Regions from separate parts of the Homo sapiens genome. Here region 1 is linked to region 2. Evidence: fine-mapped expression QTL. A gene starts in region 2. The other region holds a variant in brackets. All regions are shown on one strand. Distances are from middle to middle. Region 1 has its middle 21 kb from the start of SSB. Region 2 holds the start of KLHL23 (kelch like family member 23).

Region 1 (16,240 bases), 46 kb after region 2:
TACATACTTACAAGCCCTTTCTATGCAATACATGCATATCAAAGATATAGCAAATATACCTTTTTCATAAATATTGTACTATTCATGTTATGCAGATTATATTTTTCATCTACGGTGGCAGAGGATTTGAACATGTCAGTGCATATAAATTTATTTTATTTTTTAACTGCTCTATACTTTTCCAATGTGTAGATGAAACATAATTTCACCAGAATCTTATTGATGGACTCATAGATTGTTTAGTCATTTGCTTTTATAAATAGTGCTCAGTGAATGAATGTCTTTTATTTAACCTATACACAGGAACCATATCTGTGAGATAATTTTTTAGAGTGGATTCACTAGGCCAAAGGATAGTTTCCTTTTAAAGTTTTAGAGCTATTGAGAAATTAAAATCCAAAGAAGTTTTATTAATTTATACCCTCATAAGCAATATATGAATTTGCCTTAGCCTATCCCACAGTGTCAGCAAAGTGTTTGGTTTGTGCCACTGGTATCTTACTTTGGTTTAATTTTGAATGTATTGCTTAGCATCCTCATCTTTCTGAGTGAACTATCTTATCTTTTGTGTGCCTATTCCATTCAGAAGTTTTCCCTATGGATTGCTGAGATTTTCTTCTTGGTTTATAGGAACCATTTATATTTTTTAAAAATGACCACCTTTCTTGTGATCAGAGTTACAAGCTTCTCCCCATTCTGCTCACTGCCATGGCTTATTTTTATAGTTCAATTAACTAATAATTTTATGAGTTCCAAGTTTTTTGTCATAATACTTTTTTTTGTGATTATAAAAAAAGTTACTAGAAAATTTAAACCAAAGTTGTGACCAATAGAAATGATCATTACTGGCTGGGTGTGATGGCTCATGCCTGTAATCTCAGCATTTTGAGAGGCCAAGTCAGGAGGATTACTTGAGGCCAGGATTTTGACGCCAGGCTGGGCAATATAATGAGATCCCATCCTTAAAAAAAAAAAATTTAGTAGACTGGGCTCAGTGGCTCACACCTGTAATCTCAGCACTTTGGGAGACCAAGGCGGGCAGATCACCTGAGGTCAGGAGTTTGAGACCAGCCTGGCCAACAGAGGAAACCCCATCTCTACTAAAAATACAAAAATTAGCTGGGCGTGGTGGTGCATGCCTGTAATCCCAGCTACTCGGGAGGCTGAGGCAGGAGAATCGCTTGAACCCTGGAGGCGGAGGTTGCAGTGAGCTGAGATTGCACCACTGCACTCCAGCCTGGGTGACAGAGCAAGACTCCACCTCAAAAAAAAAAAAAAATTAAACATTAGCCAGGTGTGATGGTGCACACCTGTAGTCCTAGCTACTCAGGAGGCTGAGGTGGGAGGATTACGTGAGCTCAGGAGGTGTAGGCTGCAGTGAGCTATGATTGTGCCACTGCACTCCAGCGTGGGTGACAGAGCAAGACCTTCTCTCTAAAAAAAAGAAAGAAAGAAAGAAAGGAAATGAAAGAAAGCAGAAATTATCATTACTGTCTTGGCTGGATACAACTGTAGTCTTCAAGTGTATTTTGTAGCTTTCTATTCCCTATTTGAGTTTTTCATCTTGCGTAGCTGTAATATATTTAAAAGTAGTTCTAACTGGACATCTTTCCATAGTGACATCCACCTTCTGTGAAGCTCTGTGCTTTTATTCCATAAATTTTAAAGAAGTTATTGGCCATTACAATGGATGAAATGAAACTTTGAAATTTTTTTTCAATGAGGAAGCTCAAAGTTTGACAAGAAAACGACTGCAAAAATATAACAAAACATCTGTGGAAGTTGCACAGCATCCTGGCTCATAAAATCAGGATCGGAAACCATCAGTCTCCTTCCCGTTTCTGTTTCCTTTCTTGTCTGTAAAGACCAAATATTTAGGTCAGGCACAGTGGCTCATGGCTAGTCACCATTTTGGGAGGCCCAAATGCGTGGATTGCTTGAGGCCAGGATTTCAAGACCAGCCTGGACAACAGGGGAAAACCCTGTCTGTACAAACAATACAAAAAATTAGCCAGGCATGGTGGCGTGTACCTGTAGTTCCAGCTACTTGGGAGGCTGAGGTGGGAGGATCAACTGAGCCTAGGAGGTTGAGGCTACAGTGAGCCGAGATCACACCACTGCACTCCAGCCTGGGTGACAAAGCAATACCCTGTCTCAAAAACAACAACAACAACAAAACAACCCCAAACATTTAGAAGAATTTAAGATGAGGGAAAGGAGAGCCACTCGCCCAGTTCTCCAGTGGCCTAGTGTCCCTAACTTGTAGAGCAGCTTTACTTCCAGTCTTGGGGCTACTTTGCAGTCAGTTCTTTGATTAGAGAAGCACCTTGCACTTTACCAGGCTTTCCTTATGAGCAGATAGTTACAGGTTAGTCTATAAGACATTATGATCATGTCACTCCTCTGTTCACATCCCTGCGATGACTCCACATTTCACTCAGAGCTAAAGTCAAAGTCCTTACAATTATATGCATGGGTGCTACAATGACTCACACAAAGATGGACAGCCATAGGCCTGGGTGAAAGCTCAGAGAGTCTGGTTTCAAACAGGAAGATGGGAGCAATGGATACTGTGACAATTGACAGTCTCTGCCAGACATTAAAATGCTATGAAGCCACTATAATTAAAATTCTGGGCCGGGCACGGTGGCTCACACCTGTAATCCCAGCACTTCGGGAGGCCAAGGCAAGCAGATCACTTGAGGTCAGGAGTTCGAGACCAGCCTGTCCTACATGACAAAACCCCATCTCCACTAAAAATACAAAAATTAGCCAGGCGTGGTGGTGCACGCCTGTAGTCCCAGCTACTTGGGAGGCTGAGGCAGGAGAATCACTTGAATCCATGAGGCGGGGGTTGCAGTGAGCCAAGATCGCACTACTCCACTTACAGCCTGGGCAACAGAGTGAGACTCTGTCTCAAAAATAAAATAAAATTCTGCTGTGTTATATTTCAAAATAATGTAAGAAAATTCAAGAAAAACCTCTGGGGTAGTGAGACATGAATAGACCAAGGATAATTGAAAAACATTTATCTAATGCTAACTTTTCTTATATGCCTGGGTGCATATTCATGGAAGGAGTGTAAATTGACACATTTCTGGTGAACAACTGAGAAAAATATATTACAATTACCAATTGAAGACCGTTTTGAACATGAGAGTATTTTGTTAGGGCGGGAATGTTTCTTGATGTGTACTTCCAGGCTGAAGTAGCTCTCCTGGTTTAATGCTGCTGGCCTCTCTTCTCCTCCTCACTTGCTTCTCCCTAAGAAAGGAGGGGTGACTCCTCTAATTGTTAAATTTGTAAAGAATAAACTGGGAAGGCCGCATTCAGCCCATCATCTTCCTAAAACCTGCATGGGGAGACCTATGTTTGAAGAACATTGCCTATGATTAAATGGAAAGAGATCCAGAATTGGGAAGCTCTCTTATCTGCAAATGTAAGCAACATGCTTCAACATCAGCTGTCACCAGTAATGAAGTGACATTTTAATCACCTGTCTGCCTCTTTTGTCTTATTTCCTAATTGGCTTAGAATTTGGGTGAGGATGAGGAGTGTCATTTATTGCTATAAGATCCAAACACACATCTACGGGTTTATCCTACAGACATACTTACATATGTATGAAGTTACATGTGTACAAGGTTATTCATTGTAGCACTGTTTATAATACCAAAAGACTGAGAGCAATCTGAATGTCCATAGAGAGGATTATTTAAATAAGACACTGTTGCACAATGGACTACTATGCAGCCAAAAATATTAGTAAGCTCCAAGATATATTAAAAAAACAGAATCACAAAACAAAAGGTACAGAATTGTGAGTATAGTATGCTATAAATTGTGCAAGAAAAAGAAAAATATATAAATATCTGCTAATACCTTCATAGCATATTTCAGAAATAATATATAAGAAATTGGTCAGTTTATTTATTTTATTTTGCCTCCAGGGAAGAAAACTTGGTACGTAGGAGCATTTTCTATTTGATACTCCCTAAAGTCACAGAAATCATGGGTGAGTGCAAATTCAGAGCAGAAATCCTGTGTCTGAAAGTACTATTAAGTACCTGTATCTTTCAAATCTTGTTAGTAGATGGTTACAAATTAATTACTCAATCTTTCTGTCAAATCAAAATGCATTTGTACTTATTTAGCTAAGGTGTAAAGTGAAGTGATTATTATAATTTTACTTTTTTTAAAACTTAATTATGTTTCATTAAATTAGCATATAATTGAGTATCTAAATGAAACTTTCAGATAAATAGAATAAAAACAGAGGTACAAGGAGAGTTGCAGTACATGGCAAGTTTCATCGTGAAAAGTTTTTTATTTGCCTTATTTTCATTTACTCAAAAAAATACTTATTGAGAGCCTCCTCTGTGCCTTGCTTTAAAAACTCTGGGAAAATGGGAGCAAGACACTCTCTTTTCTTAGTATGGCCTACTCTAGTAGGGGACACAGATAACAAGTAAACAAGCAGGCCAGGCGCAGTAGCTCACACCTGTGATCCCAGCACTTTGGAAGGCCAAGGCAGGCAGATCACCTGAGGCCAGGAGTTCGAGACCAGCCTGGCCAACATGGTGAAACCCCATGTCTAGTAAAAATACAAAAAAATTATCCAAACATGGTGGCACACACCTGTAGTCCCAGCTACTTGGGAGGCTGAGGCATGAGATCGCCTAAACCCAGGAGGTGGAGGTTGCAGTGAGCCAATATTGTGCCACTACAACTCCAGCCTGGGTGACAGAGGAGACCCTATCTTAAAAAGAAAAAAAAGTAAGCAGTAAGCTAATTTTTTAAGTGATAGTACTAAAAGACAATAACACAGAGCTATGACAATACAGAGTGGCTAAAATGGGAGAGGAGGAAGGATTATTTTTTCCCAGTTGATTTTCGGGGACAGATACAATTTATTAAAGAAGCATGTATGATATGCCCCCCGTGCCTACTCCTGTTGTGGGCACTGGGCATAAAGCAACATAGAAGGTTAAATCTTTGCTCTCAAGAAGCTTAAGACATTCCATTGATACAGACTGACAATAAACAAACAAGCAAATTGATATTTAATATGCAGAGTCAGATTTACTGTGATACCCCAGGGAGGGCTGGTAATTGCTGAGGGCCATAGAATGTTCTAGGTGGCAAGTGGAAGCCAGGTTGCAACAACTACACATTTTTACATAAGCATTTCTAGTAAATTGCCTAAATAAATCCTAGAAGGAAGAACTGAAGCTCCAAGACTCCAGCAATTTATGATTTATTTTCACATTAATATTCACTTTCATACTTAATTTTTATTTATTTTTATTTTTTTATTTTGTTTTTGAGACGGAGGCTTGCTCTCGCCCAGGCTGGAGTACAGTGGCGTGATCTCGGCTCCACTGCAAGCTCCGCCTCCCAGGTTCACGCCATTCTCCTGCCTCAGCCTCCCAAGTAGCTGGGACTACAGGCGCCTGCTACCATGCCTGGCTAATTCACCGTGTTAGCCAGGATGGTCTCGATCTCATGACCTCGTGATCTGCCCGTCTCGGCCTCCCAAAGTGCTGGGATTACAGGCGTGAGCCACCGCGCCCAGCTCATACTTAATTTTTAATTGCAATTTTTATATTTTGTTTCTTTAAAAAATGCCCCCCCATTATAAAAACTTCAGGCCCCACAAAATTTGTATGTTCCCATAATAAGATATCAGGTGGTAACAAGTTTGTTTTTTGTTTTTTGTTTTTTGTTTTTTTTGAGATGGAGTCTCGCTTTGTCCCCAGGCTGGAGTGCAGCGGTGCTATCTCAGCTCACTGCAACCTCCACCTCCCGGGTTCAAGTGATTCTCCTAACTCAGCCTCCCAAATAGCTGGGACTACAGGCGCTCACCACCATGCACAGCTAATTTTTGTGTTTTTAGTAGAGAGGGGGTTTCACCATGTTGGCCAGGATGGCCTCGATCTCTTGACCTCGTGATTCCGCCCACCTCAGCCTCCCAAATTGTTGGGATTACAGGCGTGAGCCACCATGTCTGGCTGGTAACAAGTTTTATGAAAAAAAATCAGAATGAAGGTGATGGAGTAAAATCGTTGTGGGGGAGGTACTATTAATATAAGGTGGTCAGCTACGACCTCTCTAATAGATGATGTTTGTGCTGAGCCCTGAAGAAGCAAGCTATAACCTTGGAAACAGTAGGTACAAAGGCCCTGAGGCATGTGTACTGTGAAGCCATCTATAGACTTATTATCTAAGAGGATGTTCCCTAGGCTAAATTAATTCTTTTAGAATATTTTATATCTCCAAAATCAAGGATCAGTTATATTAATAAATACATACACTTATTAAGCTACCCATTTATAAGAAATATAAAAGGTGCATTTTCATGAAAATAGGTTCATTTTCTTCAGATGAGGCTGGAATTTAGGATTGTACACAGTCTACAGGCTGACTCCTGCATTCACCCTTGTCTTCTACAGTGATACTCCTGAAATCCTAAAATGATTAAGTTCTGTTTCTATCAGTTGGCCCTCCTAACACTCTGCCTCTAAGAACCAGAACAAACCACTTTGCATTTTCTGCGAGTCATGCACTGTTTAGACACTAAGGAGGCCTGAGCAGGAAGAATCTGCCGGTTGATAACTCTTAGCTCTGTTTTTAGAATAAACACACCCATTTAATGAAAACAGTGTGTGCACTGAGTGTTATTTTAAGGGAAACAGAACAGAAAGGAGAGATGGGAGAAAACCAAAAGAGATCAAAAGGCTATTAACCAACCTGGAATTAATAATATACTTTTTAAAAAAGTTTCAACCAGAGTATCCTGTTTCTTTGCTGTCTACCTCCTATTTAAAAAATGGTCATGACAGAGAAGCATGATGAATTTAACTAGACTACAAGTGTACTGAGGCAGAAGGCAGAGCCTAAGTTTTATTTACTTTTGGATCTTTAGGGCGAAGCACATGGTAAGCACACCATACATATTTGTGCAATTAGGAATTCATGTTAAACTGTGTGATAGCAACCATAATTATTCTACACCATGTGGTGATAACATGGGTTTCATTTTATATATGGATTTCTCATTGTTTTTCCAAGGCCTGCCCACAAAAAAAACCACAAGAAGATGAGGTGAAAAATTCCTAGGCCCTGCCGTGCAGCCACAGAAAATAGGAACCTGCCTGACTGTGGACATCAAATGAATTTCAAGGCCTGGAACCTGGATAGCATGGTTCACTGAGTCTAAGAATGAATCACCTTATATGGTAGTATAAGTTGTTTCTGAGCTGATATAACTGGGAATATAGAAGGCAGGGAGCCTGTCATTCTCTGCCTCTTTGACCTAGTAGATAGTTTGCTGTGCAGAGCTGGCAAGAATGCAAACTTTATGTGTATTCTGGGACATACAAGGGAGGCAATGGGAAGCAACATTTATCCTTCTGCATCTCTATCTTGTTTATATTCTTTGCTCTGCTTCTTAGTTCATCCAAAACTAAACCAAAGTAAAATCAACTTGAATGAAATCCAAGTCTTTATTCTCTCCATTCCCCAAACCTAGGCCAGATTCTATGGTCTGATTTTCAGCTTACATTCTATTGTCCAGCTCTGTTTTTACAGTAAACACACACATTTAATAAAAGGTGACAATTTGTGCACAGCGAGTATTATTTTAAGGGAAGCTATGGGAATATACTATTGGCCTCAAAGAGCTGACTTTCTACTGAGGCAGATAAAAAGTGTAAAAACCACTACTATCTCTAAAGTCAAGACAAAGTTAGAGGGTCTAAGACCTATGGTAAACTAGAGGATGTTCAATCCAATAGATGTAATAGTGTAGAAATAGGCCTTTTCAAATCATATATATATATATATTTTATTTGTTTGTTTATTTGTTTGTTTTTGAGATGCAGTCTCGCTCTGTCACCCAGGCTAGAGTACAGTACACGATCTCAGCTCACTGTAACCTTCAGCTGCCGGGTTCAAGCAATTCTCCTGTCTCATCCTCCTGAGTAGCTGGGATTACAGGCGCATGCCACCATGCCCAAGTAATTTTTGTAGTTTTAGCAGAGACAGAGTTTCACCATATTGATCAGGCTGGTCTCGAACTCCTGAACTCAGGTGATCCACCCACTTCGGCCTCCCAAAGTGCTGGGATTACAGGCACTTATATTTTTTAATAGGATTTTAAAACACAACAAAAGATTCCCCAGTTTAACTCCAGACCTTCTCTGAGCCTGCGGCAGAGCAGCTAAACACTGGAACAGTGCCTTAAATTTCTGGTATGGAATTCTTTTTTTTTTTTTTTTTTTTTGAGACGGAGTCTCACTCTGTCGCCAGGTATAGTGCAGTGGCGCGATCTTGGCTCACTGCAACCTCTGGCTCCCTGGTTCAAGCGATTCTCCTGACTCAGCTTCCCAAGTAGCTGGGATTACAGGCACACACAACCAGGCCCAGCTAATTTTTGTATTGTTAGTAGAGACGGGGTTTCGCTGTGTTGGCCAGGATGGTCTCGATCTCCTGACCTCGTGATCC[G/A]CCAGCCTCGGCCTCCCAAAGTGCTGAGATTACAGCCATGAGCCACAGTGCCAGGCCTCACATCATCACTTTCAAACTATCCTCCTTCCTCAAAAGCCCCACCTCTTTGTGTCTACATTCTAATGATCACCCAGTCACACCCCTCATTCACTGAAGACTTGACTCCTAGCTCACTGTCTTCCTCTTCATCCTGACTGGCGTCCTCATTTTTATCCAGATAGCCTCCCATCTGACACCTGGGGTCCTCAACCCACCAACCTCACTGCTTTTTTTTTTTTTTTTTTTTTTTTTTTTTTTTTTTTTTTTAACTCTTATGTCTATTCTGTGTTCATTCTCTCCCTTATCCACCTTTGATGTCCTGGTCGTCATTATGAAAAGCAATTGTACTTCTTTTATATTCACTTGCCCATCTGAGTATAACTTCTCTGGGCCTGCACCAGAGCAGCCAAACACTGGCACAGTGCTTTAAATTTCTGACCACAAAGCTGAAACACTCTATATCTGCTCCATAATCCTAAAAGGTTTTCCTAGTAAGATTAATATTTTGCTCTCTGAGTCAACTATTTTATATCTTTTTTTTCCTAAAAATTTCAACCTTCCTCTTTTTTTCCTTTCCTTTTTTTCCCTTTCTTTTTCTAAGATAAATACTGTAGAACATAAACCCTTCCTCATTGGCCCCACTCTCACATACTTTACTGAAAAAACATAAGCAACTAAACAGGAACTCTATTCTTCTAACCACCAAATCTTTCTACACTTGTGTCAATATTTCCTGTTCTCCCACTTGTTGTAATTCAAATGCCATCGCCCTATCGAAGCAGTCATGCTCTGGATTCTATCTTCTCTTATTTTCTCAAGGACATCACTCTTGCAATTGTCCCCGCTCTCATAGATCACCAGTTTCTCCCTTTATTATGTGGAATTTGCAATTCTTAAACTACCATCTTTTTTTTTTTTTTTTTGAGATGGAGTCTTGCTCTGTCACCCATGTTGGAATACAGTGGTGCAATCTTGGCTCACTGAAACCTCCGCCTCCAGGATTCAAGAGATTCTCCTGCGTCAGCCTCCTGAGTAGTTGAGACTACAGCACATGCCACCACATCTGGCTAAGTTTTTGTATTTTTGTATTTTTAGTAGAGTAGAGGGTTTCCCCATATTTGTTAGGCTGGTCTTGAACTCCTGACCTCAGGTGATCCACCCGCCTTGGCCTTCCAAAGTGCTGGGATTACAGGTGCACATCACCATGCCTGGCCTTAAACTATCATCCTTTAAAAAACCCTATTGGTGAAAAGATCCTCCGTTCCAGCTGGGCGCGGTGGCTCACACCTGCAATCCCAGTACTTTGGGAGGCCGAAGCAGGCAGATCACTTGAGGTCAGGAGTTCAAGACCAGCCTAGCCTGAAATAAAATACAAAAATTAGCCAGGTGTGGTGGCAGGCACCTGTAATGCCAGCTACTCGGGAGGCTGAGGCAGTAGAATTGCTTGAACCTGTGAGGCAGAGGCTGCAGTGAGCTGAGATCGTGCCACTGCACTCCAGCCTGGGCGACAGAGTGAGACTTCGTATCAAAAAAAAAAAAAAAAAAAAAAAAGATCCTCAGTTCCCTTTGGGAGGCCATCAACAAGGAGGGAGAAGGGAAGATACTTGAGCTCAGGAGTTCAAGACCAGCCTGGCCAACACAGCAAGATCCCATCTTTATTTTTAAAAATAAATAAACCTCAGTTGTCCTTAGATACCCTTCCAGGAACATCTCATTTCTTTGCTTCCCTTTATAGAAAAACTTATTGAAAGAATTGTTAACCCCACACTGTTCCACCTACTCCGGGCTTCCACCCTCATCACATCACTGAAACTACTGTTATCAGGTCATCTGTGACTTACATGTTGCCAAATTCAGTAGATACTTCTTTTTCCTCATTTTGCCTGAGTCTTGTGCAAACTGATCTGATCCACTTTGACCCTTCTCAATTATTAGCTTCTTTTTGTAGGTATCAGTAGCCTCCAGTACATGTAGGTAAATGAGGGCTATGGGTCTCTTTTGATTCTGAGCTGGGTACTTTATGAAGAACATTTTAGCAAACTACTAATTAGCCTCCCTTATAAACATAAAATCTTGAATTTTTCATTCTTCCAATTTATGTCTTCCCCCAGAAACACTGATTCCAATGATTCATTCTGAGGTTCTGGCTACTGCTACCCCAAATTCCCGAATTAGCGCCCTATTTCCACTGTGTCACCATACTTCACCATATACTTCTCCACTGCAAGTGGAGATGTACTACTAAAACCTTTGATTTTTCTACCTTGTTGACTGTTCTAAAAATGATTGGTTTTCAAGAAGAGTTATCACTTAGAATCTGTCATCTATAAATGATTATTGATTTTGATGATTTCTGAAGAATGAATTAATTGTTGTGATAGTGTATGATTGTCTGCTGCCCTACTCCACTGGCTGAGAGACCCATCAGTATCTAAGAGAACTTATCAGTTCAGTAGGGTCAGGGCTCTATTACCTTCTTAGATGGTGCTATTTAGTGCCATGCTTAGCACTGTTGGACTTGCAGCCAAACTAATTGGTTACTCTTGAACAATATTAAGAAACCAACTCATTATTCTAAAAATTGGCGAAGGGAGAAAATCAAGCACTTATCTTCTTTTACTTGTATGTACATCAAGGAAACCAAATTGTGAATATGGTACTTTTTTTTTTTTTTATGAGAGAGGGTCTTGCTTTCTCACCAAGGCTGGAGTGCAATGTGCAATGGCCTGTTCACACACACACTGCCTGGGCTCAATTGATCCTCCCACTTCAGCCTCCCGGGTAGCTGGAACTACAGATGCTTGCCACCATGCTCAGCATTTTTTTTTTTTTTTGTATTTTTTTGTAGAGATGGGGGTTTCACCATGTTGCCCAGGCTGGTCTCGAACTCCTGTAGTCAAGTGATCCACCCGTCTTGGCCTCCCAAAGTGCTGGGATTATAGGTGTGAGCCACCGCACCCAGTCAATTTTTTTTTTTTTTTTTTTTTTTTTTTTTGAGACAGAGTCTCACTGTCACCCAGGCTGGAGTGCAGTGGTGCAATCTTGGCTCACCACAACCTCTGCCTCCCGGGTCAAGCGATTCTCCTACCTCAGCCTCCTGAGTAGCTGAGATTACAGGTGCACACCAACACCACCACGCCAGGCTGATTTTTGTCTTTTTACTAGAGACAGGGTTTCACCATGTTGGTCAGGCTGGTCTCGAACTCCTGACCTCATGATCTGCCCACCTCTGCCTCCAAAAGTGCTGGGATTATAGGCGTGAGCCACCGCGCCCCACCCCAATTTTTTTTTTTTTAACCGAAGAACTCCAGCTAGTGAATGCAGAAGAAATGACAGACTATTACTATTTTGACACTTGAATGAAATAATGGATCTAGGCAATGATTATTGATAGCTGCTGAAATCATTAGGTGAGAGGCTGATGAGGAACTTTATAATGATGGATCAGGCTGACAACACTTGAACCCACCGATTAATTTTAATATTCCAAAAAGAGAGGCAAACAGACATTATGTACTTACTGGTGTGATGCAATAAGAACACAGCATCGCCTATGAAGCACTCTTCCAAAAATATCTAGCCTAAATCTTATCAAGCCTCTAGACCTAATTTTCAGTTTATGTGAAATACACAAGATGGAGAAATGTGTTAAATAACACCTCAGGATACAATTAATCAAATCTGGAAAGTAACAAATTCTATAGGGAAAATGACTTGATTTCATCAACAAATAAATGGCAAGAAAAGCAGAAGAAACTATAGGTTGAAAGAAATTTAAGAGCCATTGTATATCACAATGCAACATGTGAATAGCATTTGGATCCTGATTTGCGTAATGCAACTTAAAAAATATTTATAAGACAATAAAAAATTTAAATACTGACTGGATATTTGATGACTGAGTAATTTTGTTAATTTGTTGGGTATGATAATGGTAAATATGGTTATATATTTTTAAAAAGAGTCCTTATTCTTAAAGATACGTAGATAAGACTTTGTAGATTAAATCAATATGTCTGTCATTTGCTCTAAAATAATCTTATGAGGGCTTTGGGAAGTGGTTTGGCATGTAGATAAAATAAGACTGCACATATGCTGATGCATGTGGAAGGTGGATGATGGCTATTCAGAGGGTTATTATACTATTTATATTACACTTTTTACTTTTGAAGTATGCTTGAAAATTTCTATAATAAAAAGAAAACAAGCAAGAAAAAAAAAATCCAAACTCGAAACCAAAAAGCTTGCAACCCTCTGAGCTCTCCCCTTAAGAATTCTTTCCAGGCCAGGCACAGTGGCTCACGCCTGTAATCCCAACACTTTGGGAGGCTGAGGCGAGTGGATCACCTGAGGCCAGGAGTTCGAGACCAGCCTGACCAACATGGAGAAACCCCATCTCTACTAAAAACACAAAAAAATTCACCGGGCGTGGTGGCACGTGTCTGTAATCCCAGCTACTCGGGAGGCTGAGGCAGGAGAATTGCTTGAACCGGGGAGACGGAGGTTGTGGTGAGCCAAGATTGCGCCATTGCACTCTAGCCTGGGCAACAAGAGCGAAACTCCGTTTCCAAAAAAAAAAGAAAAAAGAATTCTTTCCAAAGTCTATGAATGGTTTATTTTTGGACCCCTGATTCTCTCAAAATTCCCATGGCTTTTTCAAGTTAGCGTATTGCTTCATTTCTGTTTTTGAGTGATGAGGGTAGAATTATTTCCTCTGGGATTTTCCTACTAATTGCAGTCAGTAATGCTTACCAATGTATGGATTAAGGCTTTCCTCCCAGTAGGAGGTGCTACCTCAAAGTATGGTGGCAGCTTAGCCTTTAGAGTAAGTGCCAAAGGCCTTCCAGTGCTGCTCCAGTCTCCACACTGCTTTCCTGGGACCTCTGCATCACAGTGACATTTTTAGAATAGATTTGCTTCTGGAATAATTTTCCACCAATTTGCTGCCAAAATTGTGTGGGCCAGATTTCCTCCAGACTACAATTTACCCATCTCAGCTGGTTCTGCTTTTTTCCCCTTCTTTCCTTAATGAGGTTTGTAGACTCTTTTAAATATTCCTGGTTTGACATGGTGGCTCACACCTGTAATCCCAGCACTTTGGGAGGCTGAGGCAGGAGGATTGGTTGAGGCCAGGTGTTCGAGACTAGCTTGGGCAACATGGCAAGACCCTGTCTCTACAAAAAAATACAAAAATTAGCCAGGTGAGGTGGTCTGAACCTGTGGTCCCAGCTACTCAGGAAGCTGAGGGTGGGATGGTCACTTGAGCTCAGGAAGTTAAGGCTACAGCAAGCTATGATTGTGCCACTGCACTCCAGCCTGGATGACAGAATGAGACCCTGTCATATGTGTGTTTATGTTTGTGTGTGTTGGACTTGCATATATATATCAAACATGCACGCCAGTCTTCTACCCTAGGGAGAGTGCTTCATGTTCTTATTTCATTGCCATTGCTGTTACTGTTGAAGTTTGCCCAGCCCTGTTTCTTTAGTGTGTATTCTGAACGAGGTCACATCAGAATTTGTGGGTCATGGTGTTAAATGCAATTTGGGGAAAGAGGGACTCTTTGGGAAAAATAATACCAAATTATGGATACAAAATTAGGCAGGAGGCCAGGCGTGGTGGCTCACGCCTGTAATCCCAGTACTTTCAGAGGCTGAGGTGGGCTGATCACCTGAGGTCAGGAATTCAAGACCAGCCTGTCCAACATGGTGAAACCCCGTCTCTACTAAAAATACAAAAATTAGCTGGGCATGGTGTGGCATGCCTGTAGTCCCAGTATTGAGGAGGCTGAGGCAAGAGAATCGCCTGAACCCGGGAGACAGAGGTTGCAGTGAGATCGCGCCATTGCACTCCAGCCTGGGTAACAGAACGAGACTGTCTCAAAAAAAAAAAAAAAAAATAGGAAAATGAATATATATTTAGAATAAATAGGTAAATCACAACAAAGGCAAATAGCACAAGCATCACAAAATCCAGGACAAAAAACTACTTGAACGTAATTAACTGCCAGAAACCTTCCCATATTTTTCCCTACATTCTTTAGCCACATAGACTTTGGTTACTCTTCAATTTTGTAACATTTTTTACAGAGAGAGTATTTTCAATGGAGAGGGTGTAAGGATAATTTACTTTTTTCTGGAATAATTAGAATTCCTCTAGAAAGTTTTTTTTAAATTATTGGTTGTTTAGAAAAGTGTCAGCTTAATAAGTTGTTATTGGTGATGTCTTACAAATATGTAAGAGTTCCCTGGTGGTCTAGTGGCTAGAAAAAATTTAAAAAAGAAAAAATATATTTAAGAGTATTACAAATTTGAGGACACTTTTGTAAGTCTTTTTCACATATGAGTGGTAAGATTTCAGGATGTGTAAGTGTACTTCAGGGCACTCATTAAACAGTTTGTCATCAATGTCATTAAAATGGTGTATCATGGGCCAGGCGCGGTGGCTCACGCCTATAATCCCAGCACTTTGGGAGGCCAAGGTGGGCAGATCACGAGGTCAGGAGATCGAGACCATCCTGGCTAATATGGTGAAACCCCGTGTCTACTAAAAATACAAAAATTAGCCGGCCGTGGTTGTGGGCACCTGTAGTACCAGCTACTCGGGAGGCTGAGGCAGGAGAATGGCGTGAACCCGGGAGGTGGAGCTTGCAGTGAGCCGAGATTGCACCACTGCACTCCAGCCTGAGTGACAGAGCGAGACTCCGTCTCAAAAAAAAAAAAAAAAAAAAAAGGTGTATTATGATTTTATGATTTTAGGTTGTATTTGTTGATGTCATTGTTTTCTTTTTTTTTTTTTTTTTTTGAAATGGAGCCTTGCTCTGTCACCCAGGCTGGAGTGCAATGGTGTGACCTCAGGTCACTGCAACCTCCACCTCCCTGGTTCAAGTGATTCTTCTGCCTCAGCCTCCCGAGTAGCTCAGACTACAGGTGGGCACCACCTCTCCCAGCTAATTTTTGTATTTTTTTTTAGTAGAGACGGGGTTTCGCCATATTGGCCAGGCTGGTCTTGAACTCATGATCTGCCTGCCTCGGCCTCCCAAAGTGCTGGGATTACAGGTGTGAGCCACCACACCCGGCCAATCTCATTATTTTCTTTTTTTTTTTTTTTTTTTTTTTAAATTTATTTTTTTATTGATAATTCTTGGGTGTTTCTCACAGAGGGGGATTTGGCAGGGTCATGGGACAATAGTGGAGGGAAGGTCAGCAGATAAACAAGTGAACAAAGGTCTCTGGTTTTCCTAGGCAGAGGACCCTGCGGCCTTCCGCAGTGTTTGTGTCCCTGATTACTTGAGATTAGGGATTGGTGATGACTCTTAACGAGCATGCTGCCTTCAAGCATCTGTTTAACAAAGCACATCTTGCACCGCCCTTAATCCATTTAACCCTGAGTGGACACAGCACATGTTTCAGAGAGCACAGGGTTGGGGGTAAGGTCACAGATCAACAGGATCCCAAGGCAGAGGAATTTTTCTTAGTGCAGAACAAAATGAAAAGTCTCCCATGTCTACTTCTTTCTACACAGACACGGCAACCATCCGATTTCTCAATCTTTTCCCCACCTTTCCCGCCTTTCTATTCCACAAAGCCGCCATTGTCATCCTGGCCCGTTCTCAATGAGCTGTTGGGCACACCTCCCAGACGGGGTGGTGGCCGGGCAGAGGGGCTCCTCACTTCCCAGTAGGGGCGGCCGGGCA
Region 2 (11,665 bases):
TTGCTCAAACAACTCTATAGGAAAAAATCTAATAGTCCGATTTAAAAATGAGCAAAAGATCTGAATAGACATCTCTCAAAATGAGACATACAAATGGCAAACAGGCATATGAAAAGGTGCTCAACATCATTGATCATCAGAGAAATGCAAATCAAAACTACAATTAGGCAGGGCGGGGTGGTTCTCACCTATAATCCCAACAATTTGGGAGGCTGAGGTGGGTGGATCACTTGAGGCCAGGAGTTCAAGACCAGCCTGGCCAACATGGCGAAACCTTGTCTCTACTAAAAATACAAAAATTAGCCAGGTATGGTGGTGCATGCCTTTAGTTTCAGCTACCTGGGAGGCTGAGGTGGGAGAATCAGGGAAAATCGCCCGAGGCTATAGTCGAGGCTGAAGTTAGCTGTAATCATGCCATTGCTCTCCAGCTTGGGTGAAAGAGAAAGACCCTTTCTTTAAAAACTCTTAAAAATAGAACTACCGTGTGATCCAGCAATCCTGCTGCTGGGTACTGCTGCTGGGTATATACCCAAAAGAAAGAAATCAGTACATTAAAGAGACATCTGCACTCTCATGTTTGTTGCACCATTGTTCACAATAGCCAAGATTTGGAAGTAACCTAAGTGTCTATCTATAGATGAATGGATAAAGAAAACATGGTACATATACACAATGAAGTACTATTCAGCTGTAAAAAAGAACGAGATCCTGTCATTCGCAGCAACATGGATAGAACTGGAATGTCATTATATTAAGTGAAATAAGCCAGGCACAGAAAGACAAACATCACATGTTCTCACTTATTTGTGGGAGCTAAAAATTAAAACAATTGAGATAGAAAGTAGAAGGAAGTTTACCAGGGGCTGGGAAGGGTAGTGGGGGACTGTGGGGATGTTTAATTGGTACAAAAACTAGTTTAAAAGAATAAATAGGACCTAGTATTTGCTAGCACAACAGGGTGACTATAGCCAATAATAATTATACATTTTCAAATAACTAAAAGAGTATAATTGGATTGTTTGTAACACAAAGGATAGATGCTTGAGGTGATGGATACCCCATTTACCATGATGTGATTATTACACATTGCATGTCTGCATCAAAGTATCTCACGTACCCTATAAATATATACACGTACTATGAACCCACAAAAATTTTAAAAAGGCAGGGTGCAGTGGCTCATGCCTGTAATCCCAGCACTCTCGGAGGCCGAAGTGGGAGGATCACTGGAGGTCACATGTTCGAGACCAGCCTGACCAACATGGCAAAACCCTATCTCTACTAAAATACAACAATTAGCTGGGTGTGGTGGCATGTACCTGTAATCCCAGCTACTCGGGAGGCCTAGGCAGGAGAATCACTTGAACCTGGGAGGCAGAGGTTGCAGTGAGCTGATATCACACCATTGTACTCCAGCCTGGGTGACAGAGCAAGACTCTGTCTCAAAAAAAAAAAAAAGAAAATTAAAAAAAAAAATCCTAATGGAGGTGAGAGAGCCAGTCCTGTAGTGGTAGCTGGGAAAAGAGCAGTCCAGGCGAAAGGAATAGCTAGTAGCAAAGCCCGGAGAAAGCCCTGAGGCACCGCCTCCTGGTGAGAGGCAAAGCAGAGCTGGATGTGGGGATCCAGGAGCCTGTTATAAGTACTCTGGCTTTTACTGAATGAGCCAGGAAGTCTTTGGCGAGCTTTAATCTCTGACTTATAGAATAATATCAGTCTTTCTTGGGTTAGTTGAGCCAATGCTCTTACTTGTATTCTTTCTCCATCGCTTATAATGGAAAAAGCCCTAGTTTATTATCCTTCTGTCTTGTATTAATTTTATCTGGGATTGAGCTCTGTGGCACAGAAACATATTCTCAAATAAACTGCTATCTTTTAAATAGTAATAATACTCCCTCAAACAGTAATAGGCTAATTCCTGTTTTGGGACCAGATCAGTGGTCTTTCAAATCTAATAAGTTTGAAAAACTATGTACTCACTTCCATATTTTTAAATCGATATTGGAAACTTTTCATCACAAGTTTAAATATTTGCCAAGGTTGTAATTTCTAACATGTTATAAATAATGACTGTTAAATAATACTTTTAAATCTATTTAGTAAAAACTAAATATAGCCGTTCAAAACCACTGTCATTCATTTAAAAATACATAAACAAGTTGTTCTTTAAAAGTGGGAAATTTTTGGCTTCCTAGTACTTACCATGGTCTGTGTTCTTACGCTGACTGTATAGAAACAGGAGGCAGAGTAAACCGACCCCACATATACCTCAGCCCAGGCCCTGTGCTGCGTCTGTATTGTGAATCAGGAGACATGGAGTTCAGAAAAAAAAACTATTGGAAGTTTTTATTTTCTCATTTTTAAAATTTAGTTCTCAGTCTTCTTTCTTCTTGAGTTCGTACTTCCATTCTACTTCTCTTAGAGAAGGTTGTCCCACTGAAAATACAGGCAGTCCTCACTTTGCACAATAATACAGGACCTTCAAAATAACTGTACAAGTTGAAAATGTATAATGTGATCTAAATAATCAATGGGAAAAATTATGATTGTCCTATGACCTTTACATTTTTTTGTCACAACATTATGAACTCTCTTACTATTCGTTAAAATGTATAGGGAAATAAAGAACATGGTAAGACTGATATTTACTTAGTATACTGCAATTTAAAACATTAGAAACATTGATAAAGTGTTATGTTTCTTTGTAAACACTTAACAATAGTAGTTCGCTTAGTTTCTTGCCTTCTTGTCATAAAACTTATGATTTGGCGTACTCATCTTTCTACGCCTTGATGGACTGTCATAGTTTTACGTTTGGATCAACTTCCAATGTGTTATCCTTTGCATTTTCGATGTGGTGAAATATCTCCAAGAGTTCCTTTAATGTGAAGTTTTTTGCCAGGATCACTTCCTTTGAGACATAAGGTGACTCACTTATGTCATGAGTTCACCTGCACTAAGTTCCCTGGCTGCATATCTGAATTCTCTCCAATGGTGGTAGTGTAAACATTCCCATGGTCAGCTATTTCCTCTATAACCTCATTGTGTTCATTTCACTTTTTTTTTGTTGATTTTTTTAGACGGAGTTTTGCTCTTGTCACCCAGGCCGAAGTGCAATGGCACAATCTTGGCTCACTGCAACCTCCGCCTCCCAGGTTCAAGTGATTCTCCTGCCTCAGTCTCTGAGTAGCTGGGATTACAGGCACCCACCACTACGCCTGGCTAGTTTTTGTATTTTTAGTAGACACAGGGTTTCACCATGTTGGCCAGGCTGGTCTCGAACTCCTGACCTCAGGTGATCCGCCTACCTTGGCCTCCCAAAGTGCTGGAATTACAGGCGTAAGCCACCATGCCCAGCCATTTCACATTTTATTTGCGGTATTGTCACTTTTTATTTCCATGCCATACTTTCATCCTTGTTGGTCAATACCCTTTCTCAATCACCCATTTTTGTAAAATGTCACATGGGTTTTTTACTAGCAGACAAGGAGACAATGCAACTGCAAGCCTTACTGTCTGTATGTGAACTGACAGATGCACAGAGATCAATCACTGACAGACTTTGAAAGAAGATACATGATTGGTCACTGATCAGGATGCGCATTTGTTAATGTAGTAATTCATGGACCTGAGGAGCTAGCAGCAAATTTGTATTTTATGCAGTTACTCAGAGTTAATTTACTTCAGTAACTGAAATTTGAAACCTTGTTCTCAGGGGACAGGTGTTATTTAACTAAACCATGGTAACTAAAATTCATACATATTGGAACCATTCAAAGAAAGCATTTTTGGCCAGGCCAAAAAAAAGAAAGACTTTTCTGTATGGTTTTATACTGAATATCTTTTATTAATCTCTTAACCTTCTCTGTGACAAAAATGTGTATAAATTACAATTTGTATGTCCTTGATGGTTTTATATCTTTGGTTATTTTACAAATCCTGGTCTAATTAATATTATAATTATTATTATAATTAATTAAACATAAATATGTTTAAATCAAAAGTAAAAAATTATTAAAAATTATTTCAATCTGATGAATAGGGCTACTTTCATTTAGAGTATGAAGTCAAGTAGTGCTTACTGCTGGAATGAGACAGTATTTAGGTTCAATAATGTTCCTGCTTAACATTTCTATAGACATAATCGCTGAGAAAACATGTTCACAGAGACAAATAGGTAAGAATGAGATAAATTTTATCATAGTGGCCGGGCGCGATGGCTCATGCCTGTAATCCCAGCACTTCGGGAGGCTGAGACAGGTGGATCACCTGAGGTCAGGAGTTCAAGACCAGCCTAGCCAACATGGCAAAACCCCATCTCTACTAAAAATACAAAAATGAACTGGGCGTGGTAGCATGCACCTATAGTCCAGCTAATCAGGAGGCTGAGGGAGGAGAATCTCTTGAACCTGGGAGGCAGCAGTTGCAGTGAGCCAAGATTACACCATTGCACTCCAGCCTGGGTGACAGAGTAAGACTCCGTCTCAAAAAAAAAAAAACAAACAAAAAACCTTTTTTATAGTAATGCCATTCATTTTGTCATTCCCTCCAAATTATTTGCCAAAAATCCTCTTTCACTTTTGCTGGAAACCAGGAATTGGAAACCTGTGACTTGCAAAAGCATTTTTACCTAGTTATTAGAATGTTCACTTTCTTATTTTACAGGAAACATACCAAAAAAGGTTTTACCAAGACACATCGGCTGCAGGGCAGCCACAGATACCTGCGTTGGTTGTGTACTATACAACTCCTGAGAGCAGTGTTTACACTGTACTCTACTTAAGTTGCATGAGCTGGAATTGTGCAGTGCACAATTTGCAAAGCTGTATGTGGTAGCCTTATACATTTTACCTACTATTGTTTTTTATTTTGAGACGGAGTCTCACTCTGTCGCCCAGGCTGGAGTGCTATGGCGCAATCTTGGCTCACTGTAACCTCCGCCTCCCAGGTTCAAGAGATTCTCCTGCCTCAGCCTCCTGAGTGGCTGGGATTATAGGCGTATACCACCACACCTGGCTAATTTTTGTATTTTTAGTAGAGATGGGGTTTCACCATGTTGGTCAGGATGGTCTTAAACTCCTGACCTCATGATCTGCCTGCCTCGGTCTCCCAAAGTGCTGGGATTACAGGCGTGAGCCAATGGGCCTGGCCTTTTTTTTTTTTTTTTAACTTGGCAGCAACTTGTTTAATCCAGTATGTAAATGAAGTATACAAAATGTTCTATCTATGCCCATCATCTACACACATTGTTAATGATATCACAGCATATCAAACATTTAATGGCATGGCTGTACTTAGTGGAAAGATGTACTAATAAGGTAAAAATTATAAATAAAATCATTATTTTTAGAACTCGGAGTCCTTTGAAAGCTGAAGTGTGATGTCAATAAGTCATCTAACTCCATGCCAAGCTTAGTATCTGCCAAATCATTTATGTCTCATTTCCATGGCAGCACTTTATTTCTTTAAGACTTGGAACCACAGATGGCACATCTGTTTTCTTGAACGGTATCATTAATTTATTTGATTTATGAATGCTAATTATATGTTTCTGAATGCATCAAATCTATCAGCATTTGCAATGGTCTCTTTGATAAGCACATGGTAAAGAGGAACTATGCCAGGCAATACCCTTCAGGACCTGCTCTTCTCTTAGCAAAGTGAAGCAGTATAATAGTCTAATATGTAATATACACTGATATACACTTTTAAGTAGTAATTCACAACCAGGGAACATCACGAAATGAAAGCAAGAGTTTTAGTTGGTTCATGCAGCCATCTGAAATAACTGCATAAATGAGAATATAGTGAATTCTATTATTCATGAATCATTTATTATTACATGTAGTTATGATTCCAGAAGCCCTTACTCCAAGTTAGATGGAGCCTATATTTTTTTATACATCAAACTTGGCAAACAGTAATTATAGCTGCAAAAACAGCCATCTCTACACTTCAGTGACAAAAATGGAGAGAAGTCTCCTTCAATCAGTCACAATTGTGTCCTTGAATGGCAACAGTGACAACAGCATCACTATCAGTTATGAAGGGCAAGCTATAATTACTATTAACTATGAAGTTCATAATTTCTGAAGAAATGTTAAGAAGATGCTAATTTCCAAATTAAGGTTGTGATGCAGAATTAAGTGTAAATATTCTTTCATTATAGTAGCTAACATTTATATATCAAGTCCTAAGTGCTTCATTATTAATTTGTCTTTCCAATAACCTTAGGTTAGGTTGAGAAAGTATCCATGTTGTCTGTGTTTTACAGATCTGAAGACGAAGGATCAGAGAAGTTTAGTAATTTGTGAGAGGCTATATGTTGGATAAGTGGCAGAGATGAGCCTTAAGCCCGAAACTAAATCTCATATGCTTTCCTTTTCTAACTATACTGTTTACCAGATGTTGGGATGTTAAACTTTCATCCTTCTTCCTTTTGGGTCCAACACATTCTCTTATTTGTCCATAAGAATCACCTGCTGCCCTTGATTAGAATGCAGATCCCTAGGTCTCCACCCCGCAGACGTCTGTGCGTGGGGTGTGGTAGTTGTGGGGGCTGCATAACCAGCATCTTACATAATTCAATTAAGATGATCTGACTTGTGGAATTAAACTAAAACCCACCCACAGGAGAACCAACAGATGCTATTTATTCAGAGTTTGCTGTAGAAGGGAGTCCCACTCACCATCACTTTGTCAGAGGCTCAAAGGTGGGGCAGACGAGTGGGAAAGCTTTATAGAAGTGAAGAAAAGCCCCCGGTATGCTCTGATTGGAAGTTGTTGGCATGGGAAAGCTGCAGGTGGGCTACTAGAAGCGGGGGTATTTTATGTGATGGGTTTGCGGAACATATTTGGCTTTCTCTGGTTGGTGCAGAGGTGGAACTAGGGGTAAAAATAGGGAAGTTGCACTTTGGAAGTCCCAGGCAGGAAGATCGCTTGAGTCCAGGAGTTTGAGACCAGCCTGGGCAACATAGTGAGACCCTGTCATGAAAAAATATTTAAAATTTTTCAAAAATTGCACATCTGTAGTCGTAGGTACTTGGGAGGTTGAGGCAGAGGATCTCTTGAGACCAGGAGATCGAGGCTGCAGTGAGCTAAGATCGTGCGACTACATTCCAGGCTGGGCAACATAGCAAGACCCTGTCTCAAAAAAGAAAAAAAATAGGGAAATTGCCAGTCGTTGACTACTTCCTGACTGTTCTGGTTCAGCTGCTACCAAGGTTGTGGTCTGGCTTCCTGGGCTTCTTATGTGGTTCAGAGTTCTGTTGTCACATACTATCTGGCCATTCATGTATATTGCGTTTCTGAGACCATACTCTGGGAAACACATGGTCCTCTGGTGGTGGTGAAGGTCCCTGTGAGCTAGGGACCATCTGTCAACACTCTTATCACTACTAGTGTCTATCCCTATCAGGCACTAGAAGCACTTAATAAAATCTTGCGAATGAATGAATGAATGATATACAAAAATATTTGATACTGGCTTTAGTTGGAACAAGAAAATGAACTTTGTGTACCACATAGACATCTGTGACTAGAGTGGCCGTCACCAGAAAGGCTGCTCCTTCCAGCTGCTATGCTCTAAATACAATAACCTGAATCTTAGCACGACTGGACTTCGCCTGGACTTCGCCTTGGCCCCGGCTGCCCAAAGTTTCTCTCAAAGCTTCAGCTTAACCCCTGATGTGCTCACCAGCACCAAGGCGCCCTCCTGAGTGCTTTGCTGGGGGTGGGATGGCGTTTGTGGGAAAGGCCGGCTACTTCTGGCATTTCAACGGCGCCTCCAATCCCTGACCTTTAGTTGTGCCCCATTCTCTCCACTCTTTCCCCCTTCTCTGTCCTCACGATTGAGTCTGGGCTGGCGAAGCCTACTGAGGGAGGGGAGTGTACACACATGCACACGCGCGCGCGCGCACACACACACACACACACACACACTCATATATGGTGTTATTAATAATTCAGGACTCAGAGTTTATCTAAGAGAAGACGCTCGACCGGGTGTGAGAGAGCGCGCGGGACAGAGAGCGAGCCAAGGAAGGGGAAGGCGGCGGCGCGCGCTGTCTCCTGGGGAAGCAGTCCCACCTGCTGTGGGGGGCGCCGCTGGGGAGGGGCCGAGCCGTGCTCACGCCTGCACGCCCCGCCCCGCTCGCCGCACGGCCCGGCGACGGGGGAGTTCCCGCGAGTGGCCTCGCGCCCAGACCGTGCGGGGGGCTGTTCGGGTGGAGGCGGGGGAGCCGCCGGGACACCAAAATAGGAGCTGCTTGTGGGGTGGAGCGGCACTAGCTGGCGGCTTCCGAGCGCCTCTTCCAAAGATGGTCAGAGGGGCCGGAGGCGTCCCCGCTCCCGCTCGCTACTAGCCCGCGGGCCAGCGCCGCGTCCCGAGCCCCGGCGGGAGGTAGGTGCGGTGTGGACCCGCAGCCCGAGGCCGGCCTGCTGGGAGCGAGCGGGGCCGGGCGCGGGGAGCGGGGCCGGGCGCGGGCAGCGGGGCCGGGCGCGGGCAGCGAGGCCGCGCGGGAGAGGAGCGCAGACAATGGCCGCGCGGGCGCCGGGCCGGGCCGAACGCGTTGCGCTGGGGCTGCCTGCGGCGTCCTTCCCACACCTGCGCGGAGCGCCGGGCAGAGGGACGCGGGCACCGGGCCCGCGGGCGGCACGCGGCGCCCTCGAGTCCAGCCCCGCTCCTGGCCCCGGGGCGGGGCGGTCTCCGGGCGGGAACGTGGGCCGGGGCCCAGGCGCGGGGCGCGCGGAAACCCCTGCGGCGGGCGCGGGGGAGGGGGCGAGGGCTGCAAGGGCTGCGCCGAGCTGCCTTCCTTTCTCTCCTTCCTTAAGCGAAAGGGCTCGGGATTTCCCTTTTCCGAGACCTCTTCTTGTCCATTTATATTTCCATCATCCCTTTCTTGGCATTTCGATGTGATTTGAAAGGGAGACGAGCTTGGGGAAAAGGTTGAATTGGGGCCGAGCCGAGACAGCTGAGGTCCGGCCTCGAGTGGGGTGACCCTCGGACACTTGCCTTGCCTAGTGTGGGATCTCATCTCCGAACGCCAGGCCAGGGTAGATTGCGGTGAATGGAATAGCAAATCAGTACTCTCAAAAGGACTACTGAAAAATCCAGGAGCCTCATTTCAAGCTCCGAGCTACCCTGAATTTAAATTGACCACCATATAAATGATCAAACAGTCCATCCACATTTTGCATTTATTATTTAGATGCTGAACTTAGTCCAGTTTTGGAGTATATCCGATGATAGTCAAGTTATTTAGCGTTGATTATTTGAGAGAATGTGCAACATTGAAAACACATTTGTTATTTCATATTTATTGCAGCCATGGCTCTAAAAGGACAAGAAGATTATATTTATCTTTTCAAGGATTCAACACATCCAGTGGATTTTCTGGATGCATTCAGAACATTTTACTTGGATGGATTATTTACTGATATTACTCTTCAGTGTCCTTCAGGCATAATTTTCCATTGTCACCGAGCCGTTTTAGCTGCTTGCAGCAATTATTTTAAGGCAATGTTCACAGCTGACATGAAAGAAAAATTTAAAAATAAAATAAAACTCTCTGGCATCCACCATGATATTCTGGAAGGCCTTGTAAATTATGCATACACTTCCCAAATTGAAATAACTAAAAGAAATGTTCAAAGCCTGCTTGAGGCAGCGGATCTGCTACAGTTCCTTTCAGTAAAGAAGGCTTGTGAGCGGTTTTTGGTAAGGCACTTGGATATTGATAATTGTATTGGAATGCACTCCTTTGCAGAATTTCATGTGTGTCCAGAACTAGAGAAGGAATCTCGAAGAATTCTATGTTCAAAGTTTAAGGAAGTGTGGCAACAAGAAGAATTTCTGGAAATCAGCCTTGAAAAGTTTCTCTTTATCTTGTCCAGAAAGAATCTCAGTGTTTGGAAAGAAGAAGCTATCATAGAGCCAGTTATTAAGTGGACTGCTCATGATGTAGAAAATCGAATTGAATGCCTCTATAATCTACTGAGCTATATCAACATTGATATAGATCCAGTGTACTTAAAAACAGCCTTAGGCCTTCAAAGAAGCTGCCTGCTCACCGAAAATAAGATCCGCTCCCTAATATACAATGCCTTGAATCCCATGCATAAAGAGATTTCCCAGAGGTCCACAGCCACAATGTATATAATTGGAGGCTATTACTGGCATCCTTTATCAGAGGTTCACATATGGGATCCTTTGACAAATGTTTGGATTCAGGGAGCAGAAATACCAGATTATACCAGGGAGAGCTATGGTGTTACATGTTTAGGACCCAACATTTATGTAACTGGGGGCTACAGGACGGATAACATAGAAGCTCTTGACACAGTGTGGATCTATAACAGTGAAAGTGATGAATGGACAGAAGGTTTGCCAATGCTCAATGCCAGGTATTACCACTGTGCAGTCACCTTGGGTGGCTGTGTCTATGCTTTAGGTGGTTACAGAAAAGGGGCTCCAGCAGAAGAGGCTGAGTTCTATGATCCTTTAAAAGAGAAATGGATTCCTATTGCAAACATGATTAAAGGTAAGTGGAGATTATGTTTATTTTGTATTTTTTAGATGTCTGGAGCTAGGCCAGCAGTCTCACTTCTCTTGAATTTATCACTTTGGGATGCTATCTAGGAACTATAGTTAATTATACAAATAATGCTACACAGAATGTTCCAGATAAAAACAGTATAGCATAGTTCCCAACTTGTCTGAGAGTTATGAGAATTTATATTCAAGTCAAGGGCTAGATGAAGAGACAAATCTGGACAGTTTTTCATTTTTTCATGTTCTTAAAATTGAACCCTTTAAAATTCTGCTATTCAACTTTTTCCTCTCAAAATACGCTGATCAGCTCTCAAGAGGTCCTTCATTAAAACCTTGGAAGGTTTGGTCCCTACAGGATGTAACAAAGTACATTCTTCCAGGAACTAGAGACAACGTCTGCTTTTGCAATTCAGTCCTCTCTGAGAGGGGCAGACACCATACTCTCCCTCATGTGGCCCACAGAACCCGGCACACCCCTGGGTCTCGGTATCTGTCTGATAAACACTATTTTCTGCTGTGTTTGGCGATTTGTTTGCCTTGCTCTCCTTCTCTCCCACTGGAAAAAAAGTTAAACGGGAATCTTATTTCATTGTATTTATTCATTGGTGCTGAGGAGTTGTACAAAAACAACTGGTAGGTCGTTACCAAATTTGTATCATTTTGTCCCAAATGTTTCTTCCCAGGCTTTTCTGTTTCTTTTTTAATGCTAGTGAGAGTGTGGGAATTTGACCTGGTCTGGAAATCTGACCTGGTATGATCCTTGGATGACAGGCAGGAAGCTGAGAGGCAGAACAGTCTTGGGATCAGGCACGCTGCCTCTGAAGCTAAACTGCCTGCATCCAGATCCCTGCTTTCCTCTTACTTGCTGATGAGCTCTGGCAAATTGTTTAATCACCCTGTGCCCCCGTTTTGTCATCTGTATAATGGGGATGACAATATTACCTAGTCTCGGATCATTGAGAGGATTAAATTAATCTATGCTTGTGAAGTGCCTAGAACAGTGTCTGACACAGAGTAAGCATGCTATAAATGTTACGCATGATTGTCCTGAATGTCGGTATTGAAGGACATGTCAGCTCTTATAGAGCAGAAATTGATTTCATGTGAAGTTGTGAC

Evidence for each region.
Region 1: its variant is fine-mapped to the expression of KLHL23 in blood mononuclear cells (TOPMed, PIP above 0.99).

The regions. Positions count from the first base shown.
Region 1 is chr2:169,769,370-169,785,609 of GRCh38, forward strand. No RefSeq gene overlaps it. Among named protein-coding and RNA genes, the nearest start is that of SSB, 21 kb to the right of the region's middle. The variant G/A (reference allele first, on the strand shown) is at 8,506.
Region 2 is chr2:169,725,690-169,737,354 of GRCh38, forward strand. KLHL23 (kelch like family member 23) reads left to right here and starts at 8,143. Exons shown (of 4, transcript NM_144711.6): 1 at 8,143-8,398; 2 at 9,324-10,538. The coding sequence starts at 9,326. The region is part of intron 3 of PHOSPHO2-KLHL23 (PHOSPHO2-KLHL23 readthrough); the gene reads left to right. LOC124900531 (small nucleolar RNA SNORA51) reads left to right here and starts at 2,183; the gene lies at 2,183-2,314. RefSeq lists silencers at 8,014-8,453, 8,474-8,543, 8,654-8,833.